Regions from separate parts of the Homo sapiens genome. Here all the other regions are linked to region 3. Evidence: fine-mapped expression QTL. A gene starts in region 3. Each other region holds a variant in brackets. All regions are shown on one strand. Distances are between the middles of the regions. Region 1 overlaps SLC31A2 (solute carrier family 31 member 2). Region 2 overlaps FKBP15 (FKBP prolyl isomerase family member 15). Region 3 holds the start of FKBP15 (FKBP prolyl isomerase family member 15).

What was found.
Region 1: its variant is fine-mapped to the expression of FKBP15 in whole blood (INTERVAL, PIP 0.94).
Region 2: its variant is fine-mapped to the expression of FKBP15 in macrophages (Alasoo 2018, PIP 0.95). The same link has a PIP of 0.9 or more in esophagus mucosa.

The regions. Positions count from the first base shown.
Region 1 is chr9:113,161,140-113,167,464 of GRCh38, forward strand. SLC31A2 (solute carrier family 31 member 2) reads left to right here. Exons shown (of 4, transcript NM_001860.3): 3 at 370-559; 4 at 1,610-3,001. The coding sequence ends at 1,778. It overlaps FKBP15 (FKBP prolyl isomerase family member 15), which reads right to left. Exons shown (of 28, transcript NM_015258.2): 28 at 1-5,016. The coding sequence ends at 4,939. Among named protein-coding and RNA genes, the nearest start is that of SLC31A2, 13 kb to the left of the region's middle. The variant TG/T (reference allele first, on the strand shown) is at 2,778.
Region 2 is chr9:113,185,857-113,192,181 of GRCh38, forward strand. FKBP15 (FKBP prolyl isomerase family member 15) reads right to left here. Exons shown (of 28, transcript NM_015258.2): 12 at 4,615-4,722; 13 at 2,533-2,635; 14 at 1,937-2,043; 15 at 393-507. Among named protein-coding and RNA genes, the nearest start is that of FKBP15, 32 kb to the right of the region's middle. RefSeq lists an enhancer at 1,679-2,878. The variant A/C (reference allele first, on the strand shown) is at 2,570.
Region 3 is chr9:113,218,422-113,224,746 of GRCh38, forward strand. FKBP15 (FKBP prolyl isomerase family member 15) reads right to left here and starts at 2,856. Exons shown (of 28, transcript NM_015258.2): 1 at 2,770-2,856. The coding sequence starts at 2,822. SLC31A1 (solute carrier family 31 member 1) reads left to right here and starts at 3,123. Exons shown (of 5, transcript NM_001859.4): 1 at 3,123-3,257. RefSeq lists enhancers at 2,655-2,784, 2,895-3,004, 3,845-4,034.

The DNA.
Region 1 (6,325 bases), 57 kb before region 3:
GCTATTTATCTTTCCTTCCAGACATTTTTTGCATACTTACATATAAATAGGACCTTGCAGTACTCATCACTTAACAAGAAGTCACGACAGATTTGTGCAGCCTGCTGGGGGAGTGGGTGGGGTAATGGTACGTGGCTTCTTCACCCTCAGCCCCTGGATTTTTCAGGTGGCTTCTCTTCCTGATCTCAAAGCCACACTCCAGCTAAGAAAAGTCTGGTGAAGACAGTGAAGAAGTTCGGAACTCAGCAAGGGTGGGGAAGAAGGTGCAGGATAGAGGTGGATGGAGTGGATTCCATGAACAGGTGGAGGTGCTGGAAGGGAAACAGTGCTGGCCTGGCCAGGTCTCCACAACTCTGCCTCCTTTGACAGGCATGGCCCTTTCGGTGTTGGTGCTCCTGCTTCTGGCTGTACTGTATGAAGGCATCAAGGTTGGCAAAGCCAAGCTGCTCAACCAGGTACTGGTGAACCTGCCAACCTCCATCAGCCAGCAGACCATCGCAGAGACAGACGGGGACTCTGCAGGCTCAGATTCATTCCCTGTTGGCAGAACCCACCACAGGTACAGGCAGTGGGTATGGGAAAGGGGCAGAAGCCTCACATTCACCCTGAGAGACAGGCTGGCCCAGACAGCATTAGCCCCACTTCACAGAGAGGACAGCGAGGCCCAGGGAAGGACCAGGACTTGCCAAAGTGGCTACACATAGCCAAGTGAACTAGAGCTCATGTCTCCTGATGCCCAGGCCAAAGCACTCTGTGAACAGCCAGCCACTTGAGAGGCTCAGAAGGCTTTCTTTAGGGAACAGTGATCTTCAGGTGCAGGCCCCTATCTAGCAAATGAGGTGGCCACCCACCCTCCCCCAAATCTCACCAGTTCCATGGGTCACTAGGCTCCCATATCCAGGAGGGGATCTGCAGCTGTCCTGAAGCAATGTATCCCACTTGGTGGGAGGAGGATGACAAGCTCTCCTCTCCTCCCTTCCCACTCGAATCAGGCAACCATTTAGGGTCCCTGTTCTGCCCTCTGTCCAGCCCCAGCCTCACCTGTGCTTAATAAGCCTGCCCGCTCCATCACTAGCCACCCTACATGGGTGTCTCAGATCTTCACAACTGCACTGCAAGGGAAGTATTCTCATTCCTGTTTTACTGATAAGGAATCTTACGTTCAGAGAGGTTAAGACATTTGTCTAGGCCACTTTTAGTTAGTGGCAGGTCTAGGAACTGATAATGTCACCTAAGACCATGCTTTTTCTTTCCATTGTCATACTGCCTCCCGAAGTAGATTCAGGGGGGAAATATGCCTTACTGATGATTTTCTCTTATTCCTTATCAGAAAGACAGATTATAGATACCCTCATTTTCCCCTTTGCCTAGGATGCCAGGAAGCTTGAAACCAAATGTAGTGAAGATATGTCTCTTTAAAAATAAATCTCGAGTTTTTTCTGGGGGCGGGGGTGGGAGGGGCAGAAAGAAATCACTCCTGGGTTAAGCATACAAGTTATAAATCAATCGGGTCACGTAACTCAACAGCTTTCTACTCCCTGATATCTACTCCCAGCTTCCTCATTACCAGCTCATTACCAGGATTAACTTGCTTCTCCTTTTTATCTAGGTGGTATTTGTGTCACTTTGGCCAGTCTCTAATCCATGTCATCCAGGTGGTCATCGGCTACTTCATCATGCTGGCCGTAATGTCCTACAACACCTGGATTTTCCTTGGTGTGGTCTTGGGCTCTGCTGTGGGCTACTACCTAGCTTACCCACTTCTCAGCACAGCTTAGCTGGTGAGGAACGTGCAGGCACTGAGGCTGGAGGGACATGGAGCCCCCTCTTCCAGACACTATACTTCCAACTGCCCTTTCTTCTGATGGCTATTCCTCCACCTTATTCCCAGCCCCTGGAAACTTTGAGCTGAAGCCAGCACTTGCTCCCTGGAGTTCGGAAGCCATTGCAGCAACCTTCCTTCTCAGCCAGCCTACGTAGGGCCCAGGCATGGTCTTGTGTCTTAAGACAGCTGCTGTGACCAAAGGGAGAATGGAGATAACAGGGGTGGCAGGGTTACTGAGCCCATGACAATGCTTCTCTGTGACTCAAACCAGGAATTTCCAAAGATTTCAAGCCAGGGAGAAGGGTTCTTGGTGATGCAGGGCATGGAACCTGGACACCCTCAGCTCTCCTGCTTTGTGCCTTATCTACAGGAGCATCGCCCATTGGACTTCCTGACCTCTTCTGTCTTTGAGGGACAGAGACCAAGCTAGATCCTTTTTCTCACCTTTCTGCCTTTGGAACACATGAAGATCATCTCGTCTATGGATCATGTTGACAAACTAAGTTTTTTTTATTTTTCCCATTGAACTCCTAGTTGGCAATTTTGCACATTCATACAAAAAAATTTTTAATGAAATGATTTCATTGATTCATGATGGATGGCAGAAACTGCTGAGACCTATTTCCCTTTCTTGGGGAGAGAATAAGTGACAGCTGATTAAAGGCAGAGACACAGGACTGCTTTCAGGCTCCTGGTTTATTCTCTGATAGACTGAGCTCCTTCCACCAGAAGGCACTGCCTGCAGGAAGAAGATGATCTGATGGCCGTGGGTGTCTGGGAAGCTCTTCGTGGCCTCAATGCCCTCCTTTATCCTCATCTTTCTTCTATGCAGAACAAAAAGCTGCATCTAATAATGTTCAATACTTAATATTCTCTATTTATTACTTACTGCTTACTCGTAATGATCTAGTGGGGAAACATGATTCATTCACTTAAAATACTGATTAAGCCA[TG/T]GGCAGGTACTGACTGAAGATGCAATCCAACCAAAGCCATTACATTTTTTGAGTTAGATGGGACTCTCTGGATAGTTGAACCTCTTCACTTTATAAAAAAGGAAAGAGAGAAAATCACTGCTGTATACTAAATACCTCACAGATTAGATGAAAAGATGGTTGTAAGCTTTGGGAATTAAAAACAAACAAATACATTTTAGTAAATATATATTTTTAAATAGTCTATGACTGTTCTGTTCTCCTAATTCCAACAGAAAGCACATGAACCCTTGTAACAACTGCAGGGGCTGAGTGGGGCTAATAGAACTGGTAGTACTCTTTATAAGCCTGTCTGAGGACAGAGTCCATCCATCTGCTACAAAGACAACTCTGCTCAGGGAAACCCAGCCCTGAAATGCTGCACCCAGGTAGACACCCCAGAATGCCAACTGAGGCAAGTCAAGTCATTCTTCATTCATGTAACAAGTATTAATTGAGTACATGCTATAAGAAAAGTAACTGTCACACGGACTTTAAGCACCTGTGTTGGCACAATTACTCAGCATCTTCTCTCCCTGCGGGCAGAAGCAAATATAATAGCCACTAGTTAATTTACAATAAGAAATAACTGCCCTAGAAAGTAGACTATGTCACACCTTTAGGACTGATCAGGGCATTCCCCCATGTTTGCAGGGAACTGGAAAGCTGCCTGGTGTCTCAAGAAGCCTGTTTCTAAAAGCATCACCGCCCCTTCCCCCAACCAGTGACAGTCAGGCTGTGCTGGCCAAGAGCCCAGGCTCTGGAATCAGATGGCCAGGATTTGAATTCTTGTGCTGAGGCTTCCTAGATATGTAACTTTGGGCAAATTACTTTACCTCTCTAAGTCTCAGTTTTCTCCTCTATAAAATGGTGATAACACTGTCTTCTGCAGTGGTTGCTGGAGATAAGCCAGTCTGTGAAAGTGCCAAACAGCACCGCCTTTTGTTAAGCAACAAAGAAATAATTAGTTCTCACTGCCTCCCAGGTCCGCACACGGGAGACATATCCAAAGCCTGCAAGGATGATGCCAGGCCAGATGAAGTGGAATTTTGGGTCCTATCTTTTAAAACATTTAAAATCAAGAAACATTTTTTATTAAAATTAATTATTCTGTTTTTTTAAAGACTGATTGCATAATCTTTGGAAGATCCTGGAATCAAGAAAATGACCACAAGTATTTTCTCACTACTGTTCTCTGCATAAGTCCTGGTCCCATGAGTTCTAAGGGAATGGAAGCTGCTCTCAAAGTGAAGAATCCCTCAGGTGCCATGAACAATGGAAAGAAGGGACCCTCTCACCTTCTTTGCATGGCTTCCTAGACTGCAGGACTAAGCCTGCAGGAGCAAGAGGATGACTGGACTGGTCCTCACAGAACCATCATGCCCCAGGGATGAGCTAGGACTACAGTGGTGACTTTCTTTGAAAGCCTAAAAGTTCCAGGGTTAGGTATCAAAGGGAGTAAATATGCCACAACGTTTTGTGCACATTAACTGACCCAGATCTGTAAGACTCCTACCCTTAGATTCCCAAAAGAGCACAGACAGCCCTTGGAACCAAACTCAATTTTTCTCCAAGGGCTTGGGTCAAGTTTCATTATAGACATTTATTTTAGTTTTATTTTCAAAGTCATTGACCTCTTGTATCAGATTTAAGGCAAAGAAGAAGATACATGTCCCAGGACTATAGGCCAGGCTGTTGACTGCACTGGGATTTAGATGGTGTAATCTCCCTTAGTTCTACCAGGGAGACCTCAGCCCAGGTCTTGTTGCCGGGGCACAGTTGAGCACTGGATTCAGGTAGAGGAGGGCTCCCAGGTCAGTCTGAGAGTTAATGAAGAGATTAAAAAGTCTGGCAGAGGACAGGACTCTTACAGGTGACTGGCTTGGAGGGGAACCTACCAGTCCTTCTTCCAACTTGCTGCTGAAATCCCAGTGTTCTTGAAGACAGGGTTATGATCCTCTTCACCAGGTCTGGCGGGGGTGGGGCTCAGAAGGTGGCCAACCCACCCTCTGAGCCCAAATATTGTTCCCAGAATGCTCACCTTGACCTCACCCTGTGGTTCGCCTAGACCCAGGGTTGGCTGTGCAAAATCATGCTTAGGGAAGGGTTGCAGAGAAACCTTTGCACCAGTTTCCTGGGTCTTCATCCCAGCCAGTCAATGTCATCGTCATCATCATCATCTCCAAAAAGGGGCGTTGGGGGCGGGCGTCCCTTCATGCTCTGATAAAACAGGAAAGAGCAGTCAGTCCTCACTTGTGCCTGCACCACTGGACTTTCCACCTGTGAGTGGAAGCAATCCAACTTCTGTTCCCAGCTCTGGGTCAGAAAGGAGGTTGTACTGACAGGGCCAACTCTGAGGCCAGCAAACCTAGGCTTCCAGATAAAGCTGAGACCAGCAGGCAGAGAAGGGAGGCAGTCTTTCAACAGAGACAAAAGATGAACTTTGTTTGGCTAATCTCATCATTTATTTATGAAGCACATGTACTGATTTGACAGATTTTCCTCTCATGCAGTAACTTACACATTTTGTGTGGAGAAAGAAGGGTCAAAGAGGAAACACTGGAGCAGTAGGAAGAAACAGAAGCAAAGCAGCCCTGAGAGAGCGAGAGGAAGTGGGAAGAAGGGAGGTTGGGAAGAAGACAATCACATATGGAAAAATACTGTCGTCGTGGCCTAAGGTGGCCTGACTGGCTCTGGGTGTGATCCCATCATTTGAAAGAGTTGAATTTGGAGGCTTGGCCAACTGGAGAATCCTAAGAGGTGAAGAACACGGGGCCACAGCCTCCCACACCTCTAGCCTGACTGGCACCACCCTCGCTCCTTCCAGCTAAGGTAGTGGGGGTGAAAGGGACTGATGGGCCATGAGAGACCCTCTCTTTTCACAGCTTGAGCTCCTGGCCTTTCTCCTCTGGCTTGGCAAGGGAACAGGACCTACCCGGCTAGCAGGGATTGATGCTACAGACAGGCACGAACTGAATAGTCTCTACTAAGGCATTCTCTGCTCTGGTGAGCAACTGCCAACCAGAATCCATCTTCACAGGGCCAGGCAAAAGGGAAGGCAGCGTGATGTGTATACAAGTCTCTGGGCTAATCCCACGTCACTACCAATTAGCCAGACCTCGTACTTCTCTCTGGACATCAATGACGTGATCTCTAACTCTGACAGTATAGGATTTTCAAGTGTGGCTCACAGCTTCTGTTTTGTCCTGACTAAAGTTCTGGCTCTACATTTACTAGCTATATAAGCTTAGTTAAATTATTTAATCTTCCTGAGCCTCAGCCCTCTGATATATAAAATGGGATAAAAGTACCTACCTCATTGGATTAGTAGATTAAATGACAACATCTGTGAAGTCGTTTTCAGAGTACCCAAGAACTACATGTTAACTGGACAGTATTGGTACTAATACCAATAATATGCTCACTAATTAAAAGCTTCCAACTATATTTAGGGCAGTCACTTAGAATATACTCAATTTGGTTTTTCCCCCTTTTTTCCTTTTTTTAAGGGCAGAATTGCTATTCTGGA
Region 2 (6,325 bases), 33 kb before region 3:
TCAACTTTCTCCCAATTTCCTCCAATGTTTTGCTCTTTTACTATTTTCTCTAAACTCTAGCTACTCTAACAGAGGAATTAAAAGGGCCAGGGGAGAAAATCCAAGGAAAAAAACACAGAATGTGGACACAAGGAAACATTGGGGGATGACGGAAATGTTCTAAAATAGGATTGTAGTGATGAATGCACAACTCTGCAAATTTACTAAAACACTTTTGAATTGCACATTTAAAATGAATGAATGTGTGGAATACATATTATATCTCAACAAAGCTGTTAAAAAAGAGAAGAAACAATGAGTAGAGAGCTGTTGGTGTGAAAATGAAGGAGGAGCAAGAAGAGGGAAAGCACAGCAAGAGCGGAAGATGAGAAACTGAGGGAATTACTCCCTACCTTGGAAATGGGGAGGCTGAGAGAGCGGTGCTGGGTACAAAGGCCGAACGGGCTGCAGCTGGGAGGTGACGGCAGATGCCTGGGGATAAGCGTAGGCTTGCATACCTGCATAGGGCTGAGAAACTGACGAGTTACCACTGGTTGATAAAACATTCATGTCTTTCTTTTTTGTTCACATTTTTCTTTGGTGGAATAAAGTGGATGAGCTGGGAGGAGACTCAAACTTACTGAAGCTAGAGATGGGTGAGATCTGGGTTTGGCAGTTGGTAAGGACTGCAGCAGGAGAGTTATCTATGTATCCCAGGGGAAACCAGTCACTAAAATCCTACCCAGAAACTGAAGAAAGTGTATCTTAGGTCACTACCCAGTCATCTGGTGAGATAATTAAGCAGGGATTCATTCCCCATTATCAGGCCTATTGTCTAAGAAGTTTTTAGATTAATAAACTCTGCTTAGCTTCCATTGAGTTTAAAGAAGAAGTGCTCACTGAGATTCCAAACCAAATCTGCCAATTTCCAAGGATGCCTCTCCCCTGCTAGATTCTGAAGCTAATCCACGAGACCAAGAGCTCTCATGTTCCTTTGAGTCTCGGTCACCTCAACTGTAAGAGGAAGATAATAATATCACTTCATAGGGCTGTTCTGTGGACTAAATGAAGTGAGATAGGTAAAGTTCTGAAAAGCTAGTAAGTTACAGGCCTGACAGATAGTAAGCGCTTAATAAACAGCAGCTTTTATTTTAATGAGGATGGTAATTCTTCCTTGAAATAAGGAAGTCTAGCTCATTTCCAGGGATAGATATAACTACGCATCCACTTAAAAAAAATTCTTAGTCTACAGCATAGTAATTCTCCATGGAGGAGAGGAGGGATGGGGAGAAAGAGGGCAACAGTGGGACTTTTTCCAGTTTCGAGACTCCCCATGTTAATGAGGCATAGCCTATCCACCATCATTCCCACACCTCCATTAAGCATCACAAGGAGTGAGCAGCTGTTCCCAGTGACAGTATGCCTTATCCACCAAGTGTGTTGAGGCAGAAGAAAGGGTCTGCTACCCCTGGCAAACAGGCTGCTGCCATTGTTTTCTGTGATAACAGGAAAAAGGCCTTCTTTAAGAAAAGTTTACTAGATAGCAGAGTCAAGCTACATTTTCCACATGGTTCCACTTTTAAACCATACCATTCTGCTGAATATACTGCAGAATGTTAGCCTGCCAACTTTTAGTAGAAAAGAATACAGAAGAACGCGAATATACACGCTTCAACTGGATATGTGTGAAAAGAAAAGGAAACAAACATTGATTGCATCTTTACTACGTTGTACTAGGGGCTCTACTTGTTCTTGCATTTAATCTTTATGACACTGGAACGTAGGTTATCCTTTGCCTGGTTTAGAGATGAGAAAGTGGTAACCAAGGAAGGGAAAAAAATTACAAACTCTGACTTTGGGGAACTGCTACTGTATGAAATGTACAGGAAGAAGAAAAGAGACTGACTAGAACCACAGCAAATTATAGGATATAATTAATACGGTTATAAAATGTTACCTGAAAGGATTGGGCATTTCCAGATACAGCTGAGTGGGAATCGAGAGATGACACTTGCATTAAGGCAGCAGAAGGTGCCTGGAGCCCAGTAACAGATGGCTGAGGTGCTAAGATAAAGGGAGACATTTTCACTGTTATCCACCCTTGCTTCTTGGTGTGAGTCTAGACTAGCACCTTACATACTATCATGCTTCAGACTCAACTATTTTCCTTGCCTAGTCTCCCTACACTCAGCTCTACTGCAATCTCAGGAATGAGCCAGTGGAAGGAAACTGGGTGCTCTCATGTGCTTCTGACTCAGCCCTAGGATCCCACCCGACAGGAAGTGCAGAACACACCCAGGGAGATGTCTCAATAGCTGAGTGCAGATTTCCAAAACTGACAGTGCAACACAGCAGAAGTCACAACCAGCAGCCAGGTCCATCTCTGGGTATGAAAATGCCTTACCCAGGGACAAACTGACAAGCGTCACACTCTTACATTTACACTTTAGTCCTCAGTACTGAAACAATGCAGCCTAACAGTTTAAGGAACAGTGACGATAATTTTCATGCTGACCCAGTTCAAGGCCACAGAGCCTCAGAGAGGTTCCTTACCCTGTGAGGTCATCTGTGGTAACGCTGGATGGGCCGG[A/C]TGAAGAGAGGGCTGGACGGACGGAGTCACCACAGGCTGCCCACCTCCTTGCAGAGTGTTCACATCCTGAAACAGGAACAAGCGTTTGGGTTACTCTGTACGGGGTCCCTCATTGAAGACTGAGGCTGACTGTCTGCCCTAAACCTGCTTCCAACACAGGATTTCTAGGCAAAGAAGAGGAAGGAAAGGTAAGCGGAAGGCCAAGAGTTGAGGGTGTGGGTTGTGGAGAAAAAGCACTCTGCTATGCAATAAAGTAAGAGTCCTTCTCCCTATAATCATATTGAATAAGTAAATATAGTTAATTTCCACAAATATTCTCAGAGGTTGATGTTCTATTGTCTGAAGCAGCTAAACTAACCACTCTTCAGAATGTATCATTTTCCAAGCCAGTAACTGCCTTAAGACAAATCTAATCTATTCCCACAAAAAAAGTGGTCTTTTGCAAGAAATAATCCAGCCTCTTCGCTTCTTACAAATCATCCCCATAGTCCTCAAGGTACTCAATGAAAATCAGATAACGTAGGATTCACTGCACCTGATTAACATGCTGTTTTTGGATAATATAGTTTTAGGATGTTTTTCCAACATTCTTTATTTTCATAAAACCAAAGCTTTTCATAAAATCAAAGCTATAACTCTAAACAAAGTTATTCTACCTCCTGCTTCATATAAGAAACAGAAAATCTTGAGGCACAATATACAGTGACTGTAATCTGCTATGCTATAGTTCAAAGACCAAAGTTTCAGACATTCTTTTACTTTAGAACTTCACCTTGTCCCCTTATATTCTCTTCTAGAAAAACATCCCAGTTTTAGATTTCTACAGCTCTTAACCAACCTAAATGTCTAATAACAGAGTGAAAGGAATTATAATAAAATGATATAATGGAACACTGGGTTTCCTTTAAACCACTTTATTTACTTAAATCATTTATGTTAATGTAAATGTTTATGATACAACATTAGGTTTAAAAATCAGGTTACAAAGCAATATATAAAGATGAATGCCCTTTTTGTTCAATATGTTTCTTTTCTATAATTTTAAATTATTCTAAAATGAATAAGTAGCACATAAAATTTTTAATAAAAATATTCTTATTTACACTGCATTTCCAGACCAGAAAAAAATAATCCTATAACAATAGGCCTCAGAAATCCTATCTTCCTTTAAGATGTTAAATCTACATAGAGCTTTTCCAAGAAATAAAACAAAAATGTAAAATATAAAGTATATTCCAGAAAAAATTTTTTCAAGACCATCGCCCTTTCCTTGTTTTCTATCAAAGTAAAAGAATACTAAAAATCAGTCTAAGTTATATATTTCACTTCAATTGAGAAAGGACGATTATATTCAATAAAGAACTAACCACTAGAGAAGAATTAAGTTAAAATTAAGTTACTTTATAGCATACACCAAATTCCAAATGGATTAAAAATTTAGATCTAATTATAAAATATTGATCAATATCTTTAAAAATACATGTGATATTTATAATCTGAAAGTGGAGAGGCTTTCTAAGCATAATGTCAAAAGCAAATAACAAGGGGAGAAAATTGACAGACTTGAATTCAATAAAATTATTGAACTTCTAAATAGAAAACAAACACAAGAATACCACATACAAAGTCAAAAGACATACTAGTTGGAGCTTTAGTGATAGGCAACATCAGCGAGAAGACCAACATTTCCCAAAAGAATCTAAACATTCGCTCAATAAATATGAATTGAACACCTGCTATGGATTGGGCATCATGCTGCCCAGAGAGTGATCTTTAGTAACAACAGAGATTCTAGTAAAGAAGGCTAAATTAACTACTGAAAACTGCCCAGTTCTTGTAAAAGATCTACAAAATTGCTTCCATCTCTCAGGGAAGTACTAATCACAGTAGAAACACATGTACCAATACCAATCTGTATCATTTTGCATATTAGCTCTCTAAATAATGATTCTGCCTTAGAGAAAAAACAATCACTCCAACCAAATGAAAAGAAAGATGATGGCGACATCTGTACTATTCATTCTAATACAGCCAGGGGGACATACTTCGATTTCTGAATCATTGGAATCCAGCTGTGGTGGAAGGATGGGCAGCATGGGCTGGCCCATTTTAGCCATCCGAGAGATCAACTTGGCTTTGACTGCATCGGGACTCTAAAAAGAGAGGAAAGTCACAAAAATCACTGTGATTAAAGCTCATCACCTTCAGGCAGCTCTATCCCTTTGGCTCTTGTATCAAATCCTTCAACAAATCCCCCTACCATATCTATTTAAAAACATTTCCTCTAGAAAATGAGAAAGATTTCTTGCATAGAAGTATACATGGATCACAATTAATAGCAGTAAAAATAATTCCCTGTATCTTTGGAATGGACAAAGTGGTTTCACATACATTGCCTCATTTCAATCAAGTCTCCCCAGCAGGCATAATTAGTCTCATTTTACAGATGAAAAATTAAAGTGAGATGTTAAGAAAGGGAGGCATTTTAGGTGACAGTACCCTCACTCAAAACCCTGAAGCAATTCGGTAGATAATTCAGAAGAGATCTGTGGAGAAAAGGAAACAGGAGCTCTTTGTTTTAACTTCAGGTTCACTTAACTATGACTTGGCATTAACTACCCATTAGACCCTGTGCTAGAAGCTTCCATTAACTGATCCAAAATTTCAGAATGGCAAGTAAGTACACCTGAAGGTGCACAATATGAGCTATTGGGTATAGAAGGAAATGATCATAACCTCCATTTTTATTATTATTACTTTTTTTTTTTTGAGATGGGTTCTCTATCACCCAGGTTGGAGTGCAGTGGCGTGATCTCGGCTCACTGCAACTTCCATTTCCCAGATTTAAGACGTCTTCCCACCCCAGCCTCCCAAGTAGCTGGGACCACAGGCGCTAATTTTTTGTATTTTTGGTCGAGAAAGGGCTTCGCCATGTTGCCCAGGCTGCATTTTTATTATTTTTAAGCTATCAGTGTAAGACACTGAGTTTGCTTACAGGGATTGGTGGTACTTTATGTACATAATTTGTCAATAAACCTATACTGGGAGTGTGTGCTTATTTTTTCGTAACTGATGATGTATCCAAAAAAAGTTGGATACATCAGGAAAGGACTAGTTATATAGACCTTATGCACACAATGGAATATTGTGATATGCAGATTAAAATGAGGAAGCTCTCTATACACCAACATGAAAAGATTCTGCATTATATATATATATAATATAAATTATATATATATAGTTATATGGAAAAGGCAAGGTGCATTACATACAGAGTATGCTACTTTGTGTGTGTGAAAGGAGGGAGGAATAAAAAATACATTTCTACTTGTGTGCACCTGCATAAAGAAACACTGAAAGAATATATAAGAAACTAATAAAAGCAGTTACCTAAGGGGTGTGAGATGGAATAGGGTAGATAAGGACAGGAATAGGAGTGAGTCCTCACAATGTAGATCTTGTTATATTGTTTTGATAACTGTGCCATATAAATGTAATTACCTATTCAAAACAAAAGATAAAAACTAAAATGGAAAAGAAAAAGAAAAAGAAAGGTGGTTAATTTCATGTAACGTGAATTTTGCCTCCATTAAAAAAAACAAATTTGTTTAAAAAAAAAAAGAGAAGAAAAATAGTTGGAGGCCATTAGTCTGCTAGAAGTTACTATAGCCTTAGAAATAGGTAACGAGTTGTTATGACTACAGAGTACAATGGAACCAATATTGGACCATTTTTGTGACTGTTCAAAGATCTGAG
Region 3 (6,325 bases):
ATTTGTAAAATGGGCATAGTAGGTAAAATTATTTCATAGAGTAGAAGGGAGGAATAAATACAATAATGTCTATGTATTTCTTAGAACAGTGTATGGCATTAAGTAAGCACAGAGTACGTATTTATATACTTGTGAACACATCCTATTATCTCAAAATGTGGTTCAACTCAGATACCCCTGCAAGGGTGAAAGCATGCTTGATTGACACGGAAGTTGACCTGCAACCATAAACTGGTATTAGCATTAACATTAAAACTACAGAACTGGCAAAGGTCTCAAAGTTTATCTAGGTCAAACCTCATTATTGAATAGGTTGGGGTATGGAGGGACAAGGATGGAAGATAATCTGTCCAAAGTCACATTCCTAACTGGGGATAGAATCAACATTTGAATCTAGGCTTTTTCCTATCTTTTACAGAACTCAAAATGCTTTCTGATGATCGGTTAATTTATCTTTCTACCATCTTTAGACTGGTGATTTATCATTACTATGCTAATCGGATCTGCCTACACATACCTTTATAATCTAAAACAAATATATACATAATTGGCCCCTTAAAAATGCTTTGTGATTATTATTCCTGGATTGATTTTATTCTACTACTAAAATAAAAGTTTCTTAGGGGCAGAAACTGTGCCTTATTCCTATCTGGATTAGCTGAAGCCAAGTACTATTAGTTCATTACTATTACTTCCCACAACGGTGAGGAATGGGCTAAAACAAACTAACAAACAAAAACAAGGCTCCTGATTACTACTTCTAGATTAATAGTAAACTCTAAGAGGCCTAGAAACTCAGAAGGCAGATTATCAGATACTCCTACTTCTATTAGGCTTGAATATCCTTCATGAAATCAAGCAAATCATGTGTTTAAATCAAGAGACTTGGAACTTAAGCAAGTATACTTACAGTAATATATGGCTATAAAAGAGGAAGTGAAAAGTAGCTGCAGTATTCACTGTCATATGTTCTACTTCCTTAGAGAAAACCAAAAAAGGAATAGCTAAATCAGAGAATTGTGGTGAAACTTTCTGTATTCTCAGTGTTAAATTTGATTTGGTTTTCCTGATAACTGTGGGGAACAAAAATAAACTATAACTTTCCTCAGTATGTCTTTTACCATCAAATTAGCTGTTGTCTATGTCTAGGAGCACAGTCACATGCCTAGAATTCAAGTGTCTCAGATCCTTGAGAAGCCTGCTCAGGAAAAAAGAATAGTTGAGCCACCAAGAATTTATCTCTGGCCAGGAATCTGGAAAAGAGCACATGGCTGTCATTACCTATCCCATAATTTTCAGTCAGCTTGGACTGATTGTTGCATGAAAATTGGGAGCCCTAACATTACAGACTTCTCCCAAATACTTTCACATAGTGAAGAATGCGAATTTAAAGTGGAATAGGGAAAAAAGGAACAAAAGCACAGCTTAACTGTAAAATAACTGAGAAACGGAAAGAACTCAAAGTGGAACTAAGTGAATGCAGGCCATCTAAAGACGGGGTAGGAAGGGAACAGAGTGGTGAGAGTGAAAAAGACTAAAAGGTAGGTAATATAGAGCTAGTCAGTGTAAATCAAAAATTCCTACTTAAGGACAAAAGAAGGCCAGTGTCATTTTATGGTCATTCATCTATTAACTCATTTGTTTATGTATTGTCTATGACTACTCTCACCCTACAAGGCAGAACTGAGTATTTGTGGTTGCAATAGAAACCACATGGCCCAACAGATCTGGAAGCAACTTAAGGGCAGGCACAGCAGTTTAATCATTTTTGTAACCTCTTAGCATTTAGCAGAATAAGGGGCATATGTGGTGCATTTGTCATTTTTCCAGTACATTCTTCAGCACGCACAAAATTTGTTAAGCATATGTTCAAAGAAAAGCTCTGCAATGATCAGAGCTTGGTAGCTCACAAGTTTGGAGGAAGTCAAGCTGTCCACTGGCACAACACAATGGAAAAGGCTAAACTGACTACTAAAAGAGACAAAACCCTTCCTCTCTTTAAAGATTTCTATTCCAGGCTGGTATATATTAATATAATGCTTGGGGAAACTGGAGAATGACAGAAGTCTGTTACGTTGGTTTTAAGCTTTAAGCTTTACAAAGTGCAATTTCGCAGCTATTATTCATTCAACAGCCACTTCCTGAGCACTCACTATGTGCTAGGTACCATGCTGCATGCTAGACAGAAATGAACACCATAAGCAGTCCCTGTCCGGTGAGGACTCATAATCTAATAGGTGCGGGGTATAAGAATAGAGGCAAACACACCTAGCTGCAGGAATAAGGAAGAGAAAGCAATTCATTCTGCCTGAGGTTGCAGAAGGAAAAGCATCCAAAACGTGACATCCGAGCTGGGCCTTGAAGAATGCTAGAGCTGACCCACCAAGGCCTGGTTCTAAAGTGTCTTCGCCTTCTCCATGGAGAAAAGAAGTCTCACATCAGCCCCAGCTGACTCCTATAAAAATTCTGAGGCAGGAAGTCTCATCAGCAATCATTCCCATTTCACCGGAGAAATTGTGACCCAGAATGCAAAAGGCAAACCCAGGGCTATCTTCCCGCCAAGAGAGATGCCGGGTCCCGAACCTCAGATCGGCAGGGTCAGCACAGTTGCAAGTTCTGCCCAGATTCTGAGAGGTGTAGAGCACCGGAATGTGGCAAGGGTCTCCCCCCGGAAGTTGGGAAAAGGCCTGAGAAGAGATCGACCCCCCTCCAACAATCCGCCGGTATCTCTCAGCCACGCCCTCCAGCGCATACTTCTCAGTCACTCACCCGCCGCTCGGCGAGAGGAAATCGGTGTCGTCCTCGTCCCCCGCACCGAACATTGCGTTGGCTTTCACCGGGTTGCGGGGAGGAAGCTGGGTATTCCCAGAGTCCCAGGGCCTGTCACCGCCGACGTCGTAAAATGCCGCGGCGGCGTGCTGCTTTCCGGCAGGGCGAACTCCAGCACGGTCTCTGGACCGAAAGTAGACTGGGCTCTGGAGAAGGTGGGGCAAAGGCAAATGAGAGGCTCGCGCGGGCACGAGCGCCGAGTGACGTCAGGCCTCTCCAGCCCGCAGCGGGGCGGAGCTTCACAGCCCCTTGCAGGGATTGGTCGGTAATGCTAGGGGGCGGGAGGGGGCGGGAAATCCTCGGCCTCGGTGGCGGTGGTGGACACGTCGAGCCGGGTAGAAGTGGAGGGGCCGTTCGAAGAGTCGTGAGGGGGTGACGGGTTAAGATTCGGAGAGAGAGGTGCTAGTGGCTGGACTTGACCTGGAAAGGTAAGGCTTCTCTCGGCCCCTCTTTCGCACCCCTGTGCATGGGTACCGTCCTTTTCCCAGCGGGACAAGGACCTTCCTCGCCGCTTTCCTCAGCTCCGCGGAAGGAGAAAGAGCTCGGGACTGGAGGGTTAAAGACTGGGGCTTCGGCCCGGCCCCTGCAGTGGCATAGCCAGAGTGACCTTGGGCCGGGGTGCTCGGTGCCTCAGTTTCCCCGTGTATGCAACCGGCCATTTGTCCAGTTCTTCCATGTGCCTGCTGGTCCAGAAGATTTTAGAGCTCAGAGGCCATGGATTTCAATCCCGGCCTCCTCGTAATCTCAGAATTTACAGATAGGGAGACGAAGGAACTAAGCACCCGGGTGACTAGTCCGAGGTCACAAAGAGTAAAGGGCAGACTGAGACTGGATTCCTCGTCCTTTGATTCAGGACATAGTGAGCTAGTGGGTGAACAAGAACCTTATCAGCCCTTAAGCACTGTGTGCCCTTACAGAGTGACTATTGAAAGACTGTAGCATACACCTCGAGGAAAGTCCCCTTTCTAGAGTCCACCTGTATTCTACGCGGATGAGGTGCAGAAGAGCTAAGATATTCTGGCGGTGGGTGATGGAAAGGAGGATACTTTGGAGGCAGACACATCCCCACCCCAACTTTGGCGTGGGTTTCCCTGGGTCTTCCTGCGACAGCCCTAAATCAACATCAATTGTGGCGGACTCCTCTGCCTCCAGTTTCCACCCTATCTGTATCTTACATAAGTATTTCTTTGGTTAACCTGGTATCATTCTCGAAACAATCCTGGGGTAGTCCTGGCTTAGACAAGGTGTGGCTAAGGAGATAGTGTCCCAGCGTAGCGTCCACAGACTCACTGGAGTTCTTGGGCTTCCCCTCACAGTCAGGTTGGTACTACAGGTGTCCCTTACGTGAATGTTTCAATCTGTCAGTATGAAATTGAAATGAAATGATTGGTAGCTCCCTCCCAGAGAACTTTGCACCTCCTGGCAAAGATGTTAAAGCAGCGAAGGCTCACAGTTGGAATGATGCAACTGGAATCTAAGCACTAGAACCGGAACTGGAACTAGAATCTAAGGACTAGCACTAGAACTGTTGCAGTAGCTCTGTTTAGTGTGTGAACTTGGCTACCTCTTGGAGGTGTTGGGGGAGTAACTGGATTAAGTACCATGGCACTTTCTAATCCCTCTCCCCAACACCGGTCACTGTGATTGCAGCACTGAAACATCTAAATGTTTAACAGAAAGAGCTTGCTAGCCCCTGGCTTACATTATCTATGGTATTTTTAACATGGAATGAATACTTAAAGTCACTTGCAAAGCAGTCTCACTGCAGAATCTTTCTAGGTGTTTATGACATGTCCTTCCAGCCTTTTCTTTAAAAAAAAAAAATGGCCAAGGGAATATTTGAACTCTTATCTTGTATTCTTGGGTGGAGCTGATTTTATCCTGGATGTTTAAGTAGCTTTTGTAGGTACTCAGGAATCCTAAAATCAATAGCCTTTTTGGTGATTGGAACATCACGAACATGCATACGCAGATTATCACTGTAGAAACACAGCTGCTGATTCTCATTAGCAGTATGAGGAGGAGGAAGATGATGGTGAGTCTTGCCAGGCTTTGAACTGCAGGACTGGGTGCACCTAAAAAAAAAAAAAAAGAAAGCCACTGTCTTCCTAAATTCGTGTATCTTCAGATTGGTAATACTGGACTAGGAATCAGGAAATCTGAATTCCTGTCCCAGCCCTTATAACTCACTCTGAGTTTGGGCCAGGCTCCCTAAGCACTGTAAAATGAGTGGATTAGACCTGGACTTCTACTGAGTAACTGCTGGGGATACAAAGGTAAGTAAGGCACAACCTTGATCTCAAGTTTAAAGTAAGCATTTTTGTTTATTTGTTTTGCTTAAGTATACAACTTTTAGAATACTCATAAAATATATTGTCAACCCCCAGAAGATTGGCCAGGAAGCAGCAATTTTTTTTCTCCACCCTCCACTCCCCTTACTCCCTCAGGGAAGCAGCAATTTTAATAATTATTTTCAAATTATCAGCAATTTTGCAACAGAGATGACAGTCTTTATATACGAGTATACCCATACTAATCTGTAATGATGCATGCATTTTAAAATTAGTAGTTTAAAGTTATAACCAAGTTATATCAGGCATAATGATAGGAATATGAATTAAATGCAGGTTCTAGGGGATCTATAACATTCCGTTCACTCAGTCACTGAAAGCAGACTTAGGGCCATTAGTTGGTTAACTGAAGAAGTAAGTTAAAGCAGGGAATCATACAGATAATAGTTATATGCATAACATTTTAACGAACACATAAACATTCTTTTGCCATTCTTTTAACATAAGGCCTCAGCCTTTTCTTGGAGTGTAGGACCCTGTTGCCTGTTTTTATAAGTAAAGCTTTATTAGAACACAGCCTTTCTCATTTGTTTATGTATTGTCTATGACTCCTCTTACCCTCCAAGGCAGAATTGAATATTTGTGATTGCAACAGAAACCACATGGCCTGCAACATCTAAAATGTTTACTTTTGGCCCTTTATAGAAAGAGCTTGCTAGCCCCTGGCCTACGTTATCTATGGTATTTTTAACATGGAATGAATACTTAAAGTCACTTGCAAAGCAGTCTCACTGCAGAATCTTTCTAGGTGTTTATGAAATGTCCTTCCAGACTTTTCTGTTGTCTCCCACACCTAACAGCAAGTTTATGTGTTATCTGTATGCTCACTTTTTTTTTTTTTTTTGAGACAGAGTTTCGCTCTTGTTGCCCAGGCTTGAATGCAATGGCACAATCTCGGCTCACCACAACCTCCACCTCCCGGGTTCAAGCGATTCTCCAGCCTCACCCTCCCGAGTAGCTGGGATTACAGGCATGTGCCACCATGCCCGGCTAATTTTGTATTTTTAGTAGAGACGGGGTTTCTCCATGTTGGTCAGGCTGGTCTGGAACTCCCGACCTCAGGTGATCCACCCGCCTTGGCCTCCCAAAGTGCTAGGATTAGAGGCGTGGGCCAACGCACCCGGCCTTGTGTGCTCACTTTTATC